Linked DNA regions of Homo sapiens: all the other regions are linked to region 1. The links come from fine-mapping of genetic effects on gene expression. A gene starts in region 1. Each other region holds a variant in brackets. All regions are shown on one strand. Distances are from middle to middle. Region 1 holds the start of CCDC6 (coiled-coil domain containing 6). Region 2 has its middle 24 kb from the start of CCDC6. Region 3 overlaps CCDC6 (coiled-coil domain containing 6). Region 4 overlaps CCDC6 (coiled-coil domain containing 6).

The links. PIP is the estimated chance that this variant, and not a neighbour inherited with it, causes the effect.
Region 2: its variant is fine-mapped to the expression of CCDC6 in monocytes after LPS (Fairfax 2014, PIP 0.95).
Region 3: its variant is fine-mapped to the expression of CCDC6 in testis (GTEx, PIP above 0.99).
Region 4: its variant is fine-mapped to the expression of CCDC6 in whole blood (TOPMed, PIP above 0.99).

Annotation. Positions count from the first base shown.
Region 1 is chr10:59,904,142-59,908,141 of GRCh38, forward strand. CCDC6 (coiled-coil domain containing 6) reads right to left here and starts at 2,415. Exons shown (of 9, transcript NM_005436.5): 1 at 1,981-2,415. The coding sequence starts at 2,283. RefSeq lists an enhancer at 1,128-1,357 and silencers at 1,878-2,157, 2,188-2,527, 2,710-3,004.
Region 2 is chr10:59,928,402-59,932,626 of GRCh38, forward strand. No RefSeq gene overlaps it. Among named protein-coding and RNA genes, the nearest start is that of CCDC6, 24 kb to the left of the region's middle. The variant TCACA/T (reference allele first, on the strand shown) is at 1,641.
Region 3 is chr10:59,790,845-59,795,069 of GRCh38, forward strand. It overlaps CCDC6 (coiled-coil domain containing 6), which reads right to left. Exons shown (of 9, transcript NM_005436.5): 8 at 3,629-3,753; 9 at 1-2,267. The coding sequence ends at 2,073. Among named protein-coding and RNA genes, the nearest start is that of MRLN, 40 kb to the left of the region's middle. The variant G/A (reference allele first, on the strand shown) is at 2,161.
Region 4 is chr10:59,870,509-59,874,733 of GRCh38, forward strand. The region is part of intron 1 of CCDC6 (coiled-coil domain containing 6); the gene reads right to left. Among named protein-coding and RNA genes, the nearest start is that of CCDC6, 34 kb to the right of the region's middle. RefSeq lists an enhancer at 2,483-2,777. The variant T/C (reference allele first, on the strand shown) is at 1,721.

The DNA of each region.
Region 1 (4,000 bases):
ATTAACACCACACGACATTTCACAAAGTATATTCGGTTGGATGTCAGTGTAGTTAAGGGTAAGTGCTAAGAAAGCAAGCCACCACCTTATACGCTCTTCTAGCCAAGTACTCAGAAGGCCTCTGATCTTAAACACCGGGAATGAACACATTTGTTCCTGCAAAGCCAACATGTTTAAGCACAATTTACAAACCTAGTTATAATACGGTCTAAGTGTCAAACAGATAACCCTTTCATAGTCTCTGCATCCCTCATTCCTCCCTCCCAAACAAAACCAGCCTGAATTGCCCACTGCATGCAAAAGGCTATTTTGCTTCATGCAAGTCTTACTACTTTCCATGGCTCACAGTCTCCAAGAGACTAACCCTCTCATTTACTAACTCAAACCTTAAACTGCCTCCAACAACTTCCCTCTCTTCTTAACCCCCACTCAGCAAAGACATCTCTGTCAGCGAAGAAAGCTGCATAGGAGGCTTGGAAGTGGCTGCCTCTGCAAATTCCCCGCCCCCCACCTTCCTACCAAAAGGGCACTTCAAGAACTTTACCATCTCACATGAAAGTTGCTCCAATTCCATTCTCCAAAATTGGATTTGAGCATGAAAAGTTTCTTTTTACAATCAACTGCTATTTAGGCTACTGATCACACTTAACTTGCAACTTGCTTTCTACACAAATTAAGAATGCCATCTAGTTCTCATGTATGAGCCAGCACTGGGGGTGTACACACGCGTGCGCACACATATACACAGCCTCCTCCACCGAAGGCATTTCCTGGCACAAGGGGCATCCTAAACTTGCTCCATTTCCAAGGTGTGACCCTCTATCCCCAAATTCATCCCTTTTTCTTCATTTCAAAGTTCAGCCTAATCCGCTATTTTGCAGCAGCTATGGCCATTTATCCCCCTTGATTTCTTGACATCATCTTCTCTGCTTCTGGCTGGGGAACTTTTGATTTGAATACAGTTGTCTGTGTGGGGATCCTTCATGTTAATGATGTGGTGAGCTGGCAGGGATGATAGGTGAGAGTACACAGTGTACTTTTTCTAGTTACGTTTCGCCTCATCACTGCTATAGGGGCCTTTCTAAACGCCTGCCACACCAGGAGAGAGACCTACAGACCCAAGCTTACCCGTTTCTGGGCAGCCTCCAGGGGACAGGTAGAAACAGAACAGATGGCCTGTTCTCCAGTATCTAGACTCAGAAGCAAGATACTTCTAACCACTCCACGAATGAAGCAAACACACGTACCTCTGGCTCAGCCAGGGAGTCACAGTCACTACCCTTCCCCTGGTTTCGGCCCCAGCCCTGTCCAGGCGTGGATGCTGCACTCTCCTCGCTGTAAACCGTCCACCCTCCCAACCCAAAGCAAAGAGCTTCCAACAGAGGTGGGAGCATTAGCGCCGTACCCGCCCTTCCCTCTCGATCCCGGCCAGAAAACTCCACTTCCCGGATTCCCGGCCACTCTCTCCCGCCCCCTCCCCGGGCGATCCAGCTAGCGCAGTCCAGATGCCAGCTTAGTGCCCAGTCCAGCTGCGAACCCCCACACTCCGAGCCAGGACCCAGTAAGAGATCCCAGCTTCCTCCCTCTTCCAGGACTGGGGTTCCCCAGATTCTGGACGCACCCCTCAAACATGCTAGGGCTGAAAAAAGTCCTACCCCGCCCCCCAGCCACGCCGCCAGCCTCCAGCCCAGCCCCGGAGGGGCCTCCTCTCCAGAGGCTAAAAGGGACCATGAATGGTTGCCACAGTAGCCTTCCCCCGCACCGCGCAAGGGTCCTCAGACCCCCGAGGAGGACAGACCCGCGTGGCCCCGAAGGGATACCTCCCTCTCCTCCCGGAAGCCAGCAGGTCCCCGCAGGGAGTGTGCTCTCAGAGGGTCCCCGGGAATCTGGGGAAGACTTGGGGGGTGGCTGGATTCGGGTGCAGCCCCTCCCGGGGCGGGCGGAGGTCGGCGCTGCGGCGCGTCCCCGGGGGGCACTCACGATGGTCACGCTGGCTTTGCGCAGGTCGCGGTTCTCCTCCTGCAGTGCCTTGCACTTCAGTTTGTAGGTCTCCAGCTCTATCTTCAGCACCTTGTTCTCTTGCTGCAGCGAGGCCAGGCGGTTGGTGAGCTCCTCCAGGCGGAACGGCGAGATGACAATGCCCCCCGACTTCCCACCGCCGCCGCCTCCCCCGCCGCCACCGCCGCCGCCCGAGGTCGACGAGCAGGACGACTGCATGGCGGCCGAGCTGCTGCTGTTGCCCCCCGCCCCGTCCGTGTCGCTCTCGCTGGCGCTGTCCGCCATGGCCGCGGCGGGCTGGGGAAAGGAGGAGGAGCAGCAGGGAGGCGGCGGCGACGAAGGCCGGGCTGCGAATGAGTGGGCGCCGGGCGAGCACAGGGGAGCGCCGAGCTGAGCGCCTGGCACCAGGGCGCAGACTCGGAGCGGCGGCGAGAGAAAGAGAGGGCGCTTCCCGCTGCCAAGGGACCTCCTCTGCCAGAGAACAGAGACCCCGCCCGGGCTTGGGCAGTATTGCACTGGGGCTCGCTCCAGCCGGGCTGGGCGCGCTCCCTAGGCCGCCCAGCAAAGCTGGCTGAAAGCTCCGGGACCCGCCCGCCGCCGTCTGGTGACCACGGGCGGGCTGGGAACGCGCAGGCACTGCGGGTGCGGGAAAGCCAAGGACTGCCCCCGCACCACCAGCTCGCCAGCCACACGTGTTCCAAGGGAGGGCCTCCGAGCCCCCTGATCTAAGCCCACGGCCGCCCAGCCTCTTCCGGGCTCGCGCCCGCCCCGAGAAAAAGGAAACCTGATGCCCCACCAGCCTCGCAGGTGCCGGGGACACGTGGAAAGGTCAGCCGGGCTCCGGCACCCATCCTCTACCGTGTTGTGGCCCCATCTTCCGCCGACTGTGTGTGCGCGTGTCTCCCTCTATCTGTTTCACACATACACGCAGTTTTATATTCTCAAAAGCAAGGTGTTTTTGACTAGGAAGGCTTGGATAAACCTAAGAGAACAAAGTTCCTCTACAAGAGGCCGAGGAGGATGAAACAACAGCAGCCACAGGTTAACCTTGTTAAGTAAGAATTTGCAGGAGAGACACACATCTCCTTTAATAACCTCATAAACCACACTGCGCTCAATTGTTTAAACAAGGTGCAACTGTTTTTTTCTTTTTCTCTTTGCATTTTGCAAACATTTCCAGCACATGTCTCGTAGTAGGATTAAGACAGTAACATTTACCTAATGAAGAAAAAAAAAAAGGAAGGCGAAACACTTTTAGTAGAAGATTGAAACACCTCTTTAAGTGCCAATTTTCCAAAGTAACTGCGGACATAACATTATGCTATACAAATAGTAATGATTGAGTGGGAGTGCAACATCACCCGTCTTTGCTATCCTCTTGCTCACTCCTAGAAAACTTTAGCATGTAAAAATAAAACAGTAATTACTGTAATGCGGTCTAATTCATGGTTCTAGCTTTGCAGTTTAAGAAATTAAAAATCAAAAACTTTTATTCCCCCTTCCTCTTCCCAAAGAAAGGCTTGCAGGAAATTGGCCCAGCAGGTGAGATGATTCTAAACACTTTGCCCTGTTGACACAAAACAGCTTTCACTTATGTATAAAAATTGGAAAGTGAAACTGACCAGACTAGTTTTATTACCCACGCTTAGTTAACATTACAACAAACACATGGTAATAGAAAATAGAAAAAAAAGTGTAATTTTTTTTTCTGTTGGGTTGAACTTTCTGAAAGATTTCTAAAGTGTTAGGAAGAAAGAAGAATGATTCTTATTCCCACTCCCTCATTATCTTTAAACCTAAATTTGATCTCATGATTAAACGGTGATTCAATGGCTCTTGGAAACTGGCACCTCAGAATAAACTCGAAAACACCAAGTGTTCCAAATGACATCATCTTTCACCAAGATGGCTGCTTTTAGCAAACAGCTTAAATGCCAACAGCAACTAAACCCCAGTTTCTCCCAGGTATTTTTTAGCTTAGTGCTGGAGGGCTTCTGAACTC
Region 2 (4,225 bases), 24 kb after region 1:
AATAGATTTTAGACCCAAATGAAAAGGAATAAAACTTTCTTTCTTTTTTTTTTTTTTTTTTGAGGCGGAGTCTCACTCTGTTGCCCAGGCTGGAGTGCAGTGGTGCAGTCTTGGCTCACCGCAAGCTCTGCCTCCCGGGTTCAAGTGATTCTCCTGCCTCAGCCTCCCAAGTGGCTGGGATTACAGGTGCCTGCCACCATGCCAGGCTAATTTTGTATTTTTAGTAGAGATGGGTTTTCATCACGTTGGCCAGGCTGGTCTCAAACTCCTGACCTTGTGATCCGCCCACCTCAGCCTCCCAAAGTACTGGGATTACAGGTGTGAGCCACCACACCCAGCCAAAACTTTCTTTTAAGGATTCTCCTAAAAGAAAATATCTTCATAAAATTGTATTAAGCATTAAGGCCAGGTGCAGTGGCTCCCGCCTGTAATTCCAGCACTTTGGGAGGCCAAGGTGGGCAGATCACCTGAGGTCAGGAGTTCGAGACCAGCCTGGCCGACATGGTGAAACCCTGTCTCTACTAAAAATACATAAAATTGGCTGGGCATAGTGGTGGGTGCCTGTAATCCCAGCTATTTGGGAGGCTGAGGCAGGAGAATTGCTTGAACCCAGGAGATAGAGGTTGCAGTGAGCCAAGATGGTGCCATTGCACTCTAGCCTGGGCAATAAGAGTGGAACTCCACCTCAAAAAAAAAAATTTGTATTAAGATTGGTTTCTTAGACATGATAACAAAAGCACAAGTAAAACAAAAATAGATAAACTAGAATTCATTAGAATTTAAATACTTTTGCATTTCAAAGAACACCATCGAGAAAATGTAAAATAATTGCATAATGAGAGAAAATATTTGCAATTTATATAGCTAACAATGGAATGTATCTAGAATATCTAAAGGACTCTTATTACTTAACAATAAAAGAAAATTTCTCAATTTAAAAAATGAGCAAAGAAAAAAGAATAAAAGATTTACCTAGGCATCTTTCTAAAAGAAGACATACAAATAGCTAACAACACATGAAAAAATGCTCAATATCATTAGTCAGTAGGGAATTAAAAATCAAAACCATAAGATACTACTTCATAACACTGCAAACAAACAAAAACAGACATTATCAAGTGTTGGTTAGGAGGTGGATAAATTGGAATCTTCATACATTGATAGTTGGGTTATAAATTGGCAAACACTGGAAAACAGGTTGGCTGTCTCTCAAAATGTTAAACCTAGGGTTACTATAGTACCCAGTAATTCCATTTCTAGGTATTTAACAGAGAGAATTGAAAACATATATCCATACAAAAACTTGGAAACAAACGTTCATAGTAGCATTTTCAGAATAGTCAAAAAGTAGAAGCAACCTAAATGTCAATGTACTGATGAATGGATAAATAAAATGCTGTATATCCATACAATGGATATAGCCACTACAAGAAATTAAGTGCTGGTATATACTACGACATGAATGAACCTTGGAAACATTATGCTAAAAGAAAGAAGACATAAAATACACACATTGTATGATTCCATTTATATGAAATGTTCAGTTAGGGAGATCACAGGGGTAGAAAGCAGACTAATAGTTTTCAGGGACTTGGGAAAGGGAGGAATGAGAGACAAATACTAGTAGATATTGTTCAAAG[TCACA/T]CACACACACACACACACACACACACACACACACAAAGGTAGGCTTCAGAGTTGTATTTGTTTTTATATGCATGTTCTCATATGATGAACAAAGCAGGGTATGTTAAGCCTGAGTGATTATTTTATGTATGTTTGTCACTCTATCTTTTCCTTCCTTCTTTCTTTCCTTTCTTCTTGCCTTCATTTTTCTCTTTCTTCTTTTCTTTTAATGTGAACTTTTCACTATAGATATTTTAATACAATAGAGATGACAATGGACTTCCTATTTTTTTGATAAATTTTATTTATTTATTTATTTATTTATTTATTTTTTTCTTTTTGAGACGGAGTCTCGCTGTCGCCCAAGCTGGAGTGCAGTGGCGCTATCTCGGCTCACTGCAGGCTCCACCCCCCGGGGTTCACGCCATTCTCCTGCCTCAGCCTCCCGAGTAGGTGGGACTACAGACGCCCGCCATTACGCCCGGCTAACTTTTTGTATTTTTTTTTAGTAGAGACGGGGTTTCACTTTGTTAGCCAGGATGGTCTCGATCTCCTGACCTCGTGATCCGCCCGCCTCGGCCTCCCAAAGTGCTGGGATTACAGGCGTGAGCCACCGCGTCCGGCCAAATTTTATTTATTTTTATTAGGCATTTTATTCCTTTTTTTTTTTTTTTTTTTTTTTAGATGGAGTCTCACTCTGTCGCCCAGGCTGGAGTGCAGTGGCGCAATCTCAGCTCACTGCAACCTCCACCTCCCAGGTTCAAGCAATCCTCCTGCCTCAGCCTCCTGTGTAGCTGGGATTGCAGGCATGTACAACCACACCCAGCTAATTTTTGTATTTTTAATAGAGACGAGGTTTCACTGTGTTGGCCAGGCTGGTCTCGAACTCCTGACCTTAGGTGATTCTCCCACCTCAGCTTCCCAAAGTGCTGGGATTACAGGTGTGAGCCACTGTGCCCAGTCAGCAAAAATTTTTAACTTTTATTTTGGTTTCTGGGGGTACACAGGCAGGTTTGTTAAATAAGTAAATTATGTGTTGTGGGGTTTGGTGTACAGTTTATTTCATCACCCATGTAATGAGCATAGTACCCAATAGGTAGTATTTCGATCCTCACTGTCCACCCTCAAGTAGGCCCTAGTGTCTGTTGTTCCATTTTTTGTGTTTATGCATACTCAGTGTTTAGCTCCCACTTATAAATGAGAACACGTGGTATTTGGTTTTCTGTTCCTGTGTTAGTTTACTTAGGATAATGGCCTCTGGCTCCATCCATGTTGCTGCAAATGACATGACCTTGTCTTTTTTATGGCTGCATAGTATTCCATGGTATACCACATTTTCTTTATCCAGTGTACTGTTGATGGGCATTTAGCTTTATTCCACGTCTTCACTATTGTGAATGGTACTGCAGTGACCATATGTGTGCATGTGTCTTTATGATAGAACAATCTATATTCCTTTGGGTATATACCCAATAATGGGATTGCTGGGTTGAATGGTAATCTGTTTTAAGTTTTTTGAGGTATTACCAAACTGCTATTCACAGTGGCTGAACTAATTTACACTGTCACCAGCAATGTATAAGCCTTCCCTTTTCTTTGCAGCCTCGCCAATATCTGTTATTTTTTACCTTTTAGTAATAGCTATTTTGACTGGTGTGAGATGGTATCTTATTGTGGTTTAGATTTGCGTTTCTCTAATGATTAGTGATGTTGAGCATTTTTTCATATGCTTATTGGCTGTATGTTAAGTTTTCTTTCTTTTTTTTTTTTTTTTTTTTTTTTTGAGACGGAGTCTCGCTCTGTCACCCAGGCTGGAGTGCAGTGGCAGCGATCTCGGCTCACTTCACGCTCCGCCTCCAGGGTTCACGCCATTCTCCTGCCTCAGACTCCCGAGTAGCTAGGACTACAGGCACCCGCCACCACACCCGGCTAACTTTTTTTTTGTATTTTTAGTAGAGACAGGGTTTCACCGTGTTAGCCAGGATGGTCTCAATCTCCTGATCTTGTGATCTGCCCGCCTCGGCCTCCCAAAGTGCTGGGATTACAGGCGTGAGCCACCGCGCCCGGCCCGGCTGCACGTTATGTTTTCTTTTGAAAAATGTTTGTTCATTTGACTTCCTATTTTTTAGACCGTACAGTGGATGATAAAATATACCCATCATTTACCTTTGACGATTATCATCAACAGATGGCCAATTTTGTGTGTGTGTGTGTGTGAGATGGAATCTTGCCCTGTTGCCCAGGCTGGAGTGCAGTGGTGCATCTTGGCTCACTGCAACCTCCGCCTCCTGGGTTCAAGTGATTGTTCTGTCTCAGTCTCCCGAGTAGCTGGGACTACAGGCGCGTGCCATCACTCCCAGCTAATTTTTTTTTTGTATTTTTAGTAGAGACGGGGTTTCACCGTGTTAGCCAGGATGGTCGCGATCTTCTGACCTCGTGATCTGCCCGCGTTGGCCTCCCAAAGTGCTGGGATTACAGGCGTGAGCCACTGTGCCCGGCCAGATGGCCAATTTTAAAAACTCAGTATCTCCGTTGATCTCTGTGTTAGTTTCAGAACTCTGAGAGACAAACGTGAAGATAGGATAAGATGCACAAGAGATTT
Region 3 (4,225 bases), 110 kb before region 1:
TAACTAAATCGATAGGAAGCTGAGGGAAGATCATTCCATTATGGACTTTCTTGTTTGGGTGCAAGACACTATCCACAGCATTGAAATCTATAATCTCATAAAAGATTCTTATAAACATATACCATATTTCTCCTATAAGAAAAACTGAGAACTGTACCATGAAGGCAAAATTTGTTTGCCTACTCTCAGAATTCCTTGGAATGGCAATGTACCAGGAGGGTGAGTGAACTGTTGGTGAAAATTCCGGGTTTGACATGGCCCAGTCTGATCACATCAAAAACCTAAAGCCTCAATGATTAAATGCCAAACTTCTTCCCTGCATCTGAGAACTGTATTATGATTATGTATATTACACATACATTATAAATAAAATTTATATAGACCTACAGTTTCTTCCAAACAATTGAGTGATGTTCTCAGTTTGGGGGTGGAAGCAGGAAGAGGTGAAAAAATCTTATTGTTGCTTTTACTCTCAAGTTCTTAAAACGCTAGTCAAACACTATTATCCAACAAGACTTTTTTTTTTCATTCTGTTAACTCTTAAATATGCATTCGAAGGCAAAAATGGAGGTTTCTATACTGTACAATATTAAATATCTACAATGTCATGGTTCCTTATTTTTAGGAGTGTGTTTAATAAAGAGTTGGCTATTAGAGATGGTTGTCACAAAACATGGACTCTTAAAAATTACTGATAAATTACTTTTCAGTTCTCTGATTATATCCAACAGATACACATTCTTGTCATAAAATATACATTCTCTAGTAAGTTATTTTCATCCACAGCATATATAAATATGCAAACACAGGTGGTAAAAATCACTTTACTACCAAAGTACAAAACAGCAACTGCTGAAAAACAAAAATTAAGATGTTGCACGTGTTAAGAAAAGAGTGACTCAGTGTTCCACTGCAAAGTGAAACCAAATGATTTATTTGTGCTAAATGAATGGAAATAATGTATTCAGAATATACTTCTTTGTACACTGCACTTGCTTATACTGGGTGAAATGAACAGCCATCAATGCTAATGTGCTACTTTCCTTTAGACCTTATTTTCTTTTCTGCCAAGCAATACAATATTTTCTGGCCATTATGCCAAGATAATGCGATAATGTCCATTTCAAATAGTATTTTCTAATGGTATTTTGCACCTTTAAAATATTTGTTCAAACTCTATTTTAAGAGAACACAAATGAAGTACGAAAGGGGGAAGCCGCATTGTTTTTGTTACAATCACACTGCCTTCTGCAGCAGAAATCAAATAACACATTCTAATTAGCCATTGAAACCACCGGTGAGTAGGACAACATTTATCGACTCATGTTAGAGGGGGCCAGGTTAAGTAGATTAACATTAAGGATAAAAAAGAGAATCACATCTTAATATACGATAATTATCCATCCCATTTATGTGGAGAAGGTACAGCCACATGATTCATTACTTTGGGCCATCTGTTTTACGAGAGACATGGATGTCAATAACACAATGAAAATAACCTGTAAAAAATGTATCTGTAGAAAGTTCTGTTAAACAGAAAATATGTCTTGGGCACTGATTCATCTAACTTTCTGTTCTACACTGAAAGCCAGATTTTCAAAGGTCTGAATTGTAGTGCTGAATTATTGGTATGTTTGGTAAACACTATTATAATGAGAGGAGGGTAACAACAGCTCAGTAATTTTCTGCAGATTCATGGAAAAAAATATAAAAAAGATATCCCTTTTTCTTTTACAAACCTAAAAGCCAGGAGAATGAAGCTCTGGGCCAAGCAAAAATTGCACACTGCTGCTGAAATACCAAATACCAAACAGCGAAGGTTCCAGCCAGGGAATGGACGTACATGAAGATTCAAGTAAAACACTGATGGAAAAAGTCGTCTGGTTAGTGTTGTAGACCCACAACACTGGCTGCATTTCTGACAAACATTTACAACACAATGGATAGTGAAGCCTAGATAACCTCAGTGCAAATAAGTCATATCCAAATATGCCAGAGAAGGAAGCCTTTGGCGTTGAGTAGACGGCTCCATTGGATGAGTCCCAACTTGAAATTCAGACTAAGCTCATGCATTAAGGCTGGGAGGAGGGGTGCGCCGAATGTTGCGAAGGAGTAGGCTGCGAGGTGGCTGCTGAGGGGACCGTGGGCTGCATGGGTGGC[G/A]GAGGTGGAGGCGGAGGTGGCTGGACTGGGGTCTGTGTGTTGGGAGATGGAGGCGGCGTGGGCCGTTTGAATTTGTCAGGACTGTTGCTTCTCCGTGGTGAAGGCCTCTGCAGAGGGGACAGGAACAGCAAGTCAGTCTAGGTACAGGTGGATCTCATTCTACCTAACACAGCCTGACTTGGCACTGGGGCTAATCAAACACTAACCAACAAAGACAAGAAACCAGGGATTTCTTTCTTCATCCCTACTGGTTTCTGAACTAGTAATAAAATTTAAATAAGGCAGTGTTTACACTTCCACCTATGAAAAAGCTACATAAAATTACTGCACAACTTGTGTTGAACAAACTGCTGGACTTGGGTCCTTCAACGAGAGCTGTAAAATATCCCCTTAAATCTTTCTTTCCGTGTGTGTCACCAATTCCCTCTATTGCTTATCTCCAATAAGTTGTCCACATCCTGAAAGATACAGCTCAACAGAAATGTTTCTATGTTTGAGGCCGGGTGCAGTGGCTCACACCTGTAATCCTAGCACTTTAGGAGGTAGAGGTGGGTGGATAACCTGAGGCCAGGAGTTCGAGACCAGCCTGGCCAACAGGGCAAAACCCCGTCTCTATTAAAAATACAAAAAGCAGCCAGGTGTGGTGCCGTGTGCCTGTAATACCAGCTACTCGGGAGGCTGAGGCAAGAGAATCCCTTGAGCTCCGGAGGCGGATGTTGCAGTGAGCAGACATCATGCTGCTGAACTCCAGCCTGGATGACAGAGTGAGGAAAAAAAAAAAAAAAGTTCCTACTTTTACATAAAGTCCATCAAACTGGCCAAACAGCTTCAGAAATACCTTAAGTGCATTCTTAGAATAGGGTTCTTCTTTAAAATATTATAATTTATTCTTTGAAATATTGGTATTTCTGTTATTGGAAATACCCTTAATAATACTCTCACTCTACTAGCTACATTTCTAATGGCTCTATTAGTCAACTATATTGCCGACTCTAAAGAAAAAACTCCCTTGGGTAGAGTTGGAACCAGATGCACTTAAGCTTCCTTGTAATTCGAGGAGAGAAAATTCTGAGTAACATTACAAACAAGGCTAACTTCAGGAAGAATACTGAAGGTCAGTGAACTGTGAAGGTGCAGACAATAAATATCTTTAGACATTATGGCAACCAACAATAATGCAAGGAGCTGGCCAGAGTTCAATCAAAGCACTGGCCAGAGTTCAAATTATATTTCACAAAGGGTAATTTTTCATAGGAAGTGAAGTTAAAGTTTTGTCTCCTGGGAAGGATTTTAGTTTCAATACCAGAATTTGGTATCAAACTGTTTAAGTCTCTACAGTTTCAAGGTGAACGGATGGAGGAGGCAGGAAGAAGGGCAAATGTCTAAGGGCACCGATCCTGTTCTCCAGAACACCAGTCGGTACCACTTTCAGGAGTAAAGTGCTGCTTCCTACCCCACGGACACTTACTGTGATACCATGGGATGTTCCCATGTGCTGCACGTGAAGACCCGGGGAATTGTAATAAGACATTCCAGCTCTAGTCAGTGAAGTTGGTGGCGTGAAACCAACCGTGTGACTTGCATATGATAGACCTAAAATATAACAACAAATTAAGTATCATTTTAAGCTCAACTATCTGGTGTCTTCAACTATCTAGGAGGTTTTAAATCGCAGTAGTTCTCTATCACCCACAAAAATACAAACAGATGAAAAGAATGATGGGCTCACTAAATGGTGTGGATAACAAGGGAAATAAATGTTAATTCCTAGGATAGAACAGAGAGCCCAGAAATAAACTCACACGTATATGGTCAACTGATCTTCAAAAAGGGCACCAAGAATACACAACGGGGAAAGAGAACAGTCTCTTCAACAGATGGTGTTGGGAAAACTGGATATTCACATGCAGAGGAGTGACACTGGACCTTATCTCTTACACTATATACAAAAGTCAACTCAAAATGGATTAAAGACTTAACTATAAGACCTTAAACTATAAAACTCTTAGAAGGAAAATAGGGGAAAAGCTCCCTGACATTGATCTTAGCAATGATTTCTTGGATA
Region 4 (4,225 bases), 34 kb before region 1:
GCAGTGGATGGTACGTGAGTGACCCCCAGCATTAACTTTCTTCATCCTCTTTTTGAAAAGAGGACTCTCCTACAATCTAGAGGACCACCCAGCTAGATTACATATCCCAGACTCCTGGACAGGTAGGTGGGGCTATGGGGCTAATTTCTGACAAACAGGAGATGGATGGAAGTGGTATGCAACTTTGGAGTCATAGCTTTTAAAAAGAAGCAGTTATCCATGCTGCTTCCCACTTTTCACAGGCTGGAATCGAACTAGAAGTTATAAGGCAGGTCCCACCACAATGGCAAGGCTAACATCCCGCAAGATGGTACAGCTATGAAATAGGAAGACCCCAGTGAACAACCTCATGGAGGAGTCAACCACCAGCCCGGGACTATTAAATGAGAGCACCATGAACTGAGCAGCTGTATTTGGGGGTCTCCCCATCAGCAGTTTAGCCTCTGCCATACACAATTCCTGAAATGAAAACTCATCAGTATGAGAGGAGAGTCAGTCAGATCTATGTTTAGAAATGAAAAGCTCGCCTGAGATACAGTAAATTGGAGAGGCAAAATGCTAAAGACTATGCACATTATGATCCCATGAGTGAAGTTTTATTTAACAAGAATATATAAATAAAATGCTTTCATGTATTATACATGAGGAGAGTTTATATTATATAAACATGTATAAGTATTATGTATATAATTGTAAATATTTTAAAAATTAATAGAACTGTGTCTAAGAAATGTTAACAGTGCCTCTGGAGTTGTTAAAGAGGCTAATCTGTCACACCACATTCGCAGAGCTAAGAACACCGCCTTGTATATACGAAGCACTCAAGTACGTAAAAATAAACATTCACCTTGTGTTTACATGTGTATACACGTACACACAAATCTCGGAGGGACTGCTTTGTAGGCAATGGATTCCCAAAGCTCAACATCAAGATTTCACTGGCATCACCTAATACTCATTAAAAAAAAAAAAAAAAAAAAAAAAAGTTGATGCACTACTGATGCCCAGACCCTTGCCCTGACAAACTGGGTCAGCTCTGAGGGATGGGGCCCCAAGGTTCCATTGAACAGTTTGGTTGGAGAGCCTGGAGCAGATAAAAAGATACAGCGCTAGCTAATCAGGAGACCTTAGCCCTCGTCCTGGTTTTGCTGTTAACTCTTAATTAACCTTGGCAAGCTACTTTCTTTCTTCAGCCTGCCTACATTTCCCCATCTGTAAAATGGGAGATAATATGAAGTCCTTTATGGCACAGCACACATCCTGCCTTGTGAGGGGGCAGGGGATCCACGCTGCTTTGAACAAAAATTCCCACTAAGTATTCCCCAAATTCAGTTGCTAATTGGCAAAAGAAAAAAAAATAGCACTCTGATTAAATATAAGGATACAAGTTCTCCTCCAAAAGTAAAAGGCTCCTCAAACAAGGGACTTAAAGGGAGGAAGAAGGGAAATGGATTACAGGAAACTAGAAAATTCTCAAGTATAAAGAAAATAAGGAGCCAATTATTAAAAGCACTGCTAATGTTATCCATCCCTTGTAACCTCTGTGCTTACACATTTTACAAAATTGGTTCACATTACACGCACACTGTATCCTCACTCCACTTACTAGATTTTAACTATCTCTATGATTAAATGTTCCTCCAATAATTTTTGATGTTGTAAACAACCTATCTCACTGATGTGCCAAAACCATCTCTCTACTGCCTGACATTCCTTCCAG[T/C]TGTTTCCAATGCTTCTGCCCTTTGAAGAATCGTTACAATGAACATGCTTGAACAGTCTGAGGCTGTGCTAGCTGGATGTTTCTTCCAGCAGATTCCCCAACCTTGGGTATCAGTATTCAGTTAAGATACGGAGACTTAAGCAAACAGCTGCCTACATTTGCAGCTACAAAGCTGTGTCTGTTTCCTGTGCTGTTGCAGGTAAGAAAATGGTAGCCAATTTACATCCTGTTCCTTGTCTCCTTGCTCGTGCGAAGGTGTCCAGGGGTTGGGCTTCTGAACTGACTTTCTATGGAAGCCAATTCCTCCGAAGAAGTAAAAGACACACTGCTTTAACTATAAGGCTGGCTTTGTGAGTTGGAGGTTATTGATGTATGAACATTTTCTAGTTTTCAGTGAGTAAAGAGGGACGGAAGGTTTAACCTCTAGCAAGGGGTTAACTTTCAGCATCAAGTTTCTATTCTAGTTGGACACAAGGATTTCATGGTCAAACTACATCTCACCACCTTGATACCTGGGGCTGCATCCAGTCAAAGAGGATAACTTTCCAGATGGGGGGGTGGGGGAAGGTAACAACATTAGAAAGTGCATAAGCAGTAACTCTTCCCTGCTAGAACTTCTAAGAAATATTGCTAAGCTGTCATTAGGAATTAAGGTGAAAATCTAGCACAGGTCCTCGATCCTTTAAACACAATTCCAAAACCCAGAAGACTGAAAACCGAAAGCTACATTTGGCAAGCAACCAAACAACTGCGTTCACTTGGTGGCAAGCCTGATCTGAATTGACATGAGGCTCTTTGCAGCTTTATCATCAAACTTAGCATGCCTGTTCACATGTTTTGCTGAGGTGGTTTGATGTGTCTGCTGTTTCAATCCTCTGGCGGTGCTACAGTATACGTGGTAGGTGCTCAGTACCTTTCCATAGCTCCACTCCCTTTTATGGGATGGACTGTGTCCTTGAAAAAGATATGTTCAATTCCTAACCCCACATACTTGTGAATGTGACCTTATTTGGAAATAGGTTCTTTGCAGATGTAATCAAGCTAAGATGAGATCACTGGAGTGGGCCCCAATCCAATACGACTGCTGTCCTTATAAGAAGGGAAAATACAGACAGAAACATACAAGGAGAAGATGACCACATGACTTCAGAGGCAGGAACTGAAGTGCTGCAGCTGCAAGCCAAGGAACGCCTGGAGATACTAGAAACTAGAAGAATCACAGAAGGATCTTCCCCGGCCAGAGGTTTCCAAGGGAGAACAACCCTTACCAACACCTTGATTTTGGACTTCTGGCCCCTCCAGAACTGTGAGAAAATTAATTTCTATTGTTTTATGCCACTCAGTCTGTGAAACATTGTTACAACAGCCTTGGGAAACAAACAGACCCAACTCCCACCACCAAAAAAACCTAAATTCTAAAACATATCTGGCCTCATGGGATAAGAGACTGTGGAGCTATATTTTAATATTTAGTATTTTAATATGCCACTTTATTCTGAATATTTCAAAGTAAATGCAGGTTTTTCAATCTTGGTTTCTGACAATGGTATTTACCTAAATTTGTGATGATTTTGTAATAGACTGCTAATTTTTAAAAAAAAAGAAGGACAGAGAACACATATGTAGCTTTTAAAATTATCAAAACAGAATAGTTAAAACAATCCAAGTACATCTTAAATCTTCTATATGAGAATGAATGTTCCCCATTCCTATGATGTTGAGGCAGTAGCACATTTAGACACAATACAGCTGTCAAAATCCCAAATGCTGCAAAATCAACCATGGTCAGTGAAGATCTATGACATCTAATACTGAAAGAAAACGAAGTGAAAGAATGGTGAAGCATGTCCGAAGCGTAGACATTCATTTCCTTACACATTTACCTAGCAAACACACACACACACACACACACACACGCACACACCCCTACATAGATTCCATATGCCAGAAGGCACAGGGAATATAATAAAACTATAATGAGACAGGACCTTACACTCTAACAGGAATGTAACAAAGGCACAAATTGATCTTCTCCCAGTTCTAAAATGTTTTCTTTGGCACTAAACTTGCCTTTTGTTCTCCTATCCAACCAAGACTAGAGTTTCTGTAATTTTATCATTTTTATCAAACATATTAAAATTATCACATTGAAATCCTCCGTTTACAGAAAGGTGGTTCATGGATTAACCAAAGATATACAGAGATCAATATACAAAGATATTCACAGAAATGCCATCCATACCAATGCAAACAACCAATTCACTAACAATACTCCTATTCTGCCAGTGAAGGCAGAATGCTCCCTCCTGCAAACTTTGCCTCAAGCTGTCTACATTTGAATCCCCAGAACCTATGAAAATGTTACTTACATGCAAAGGGGAATTAAGGGAACAGATAGAATTAAGGTTGCCCATCAACTGACTTTAAAATAAGGAAATTATCTTGGGTTCTCTGAATGGGACCCGTATAATCACAGAGGTCCTTTAAAATGGAAAATGGAGGCAG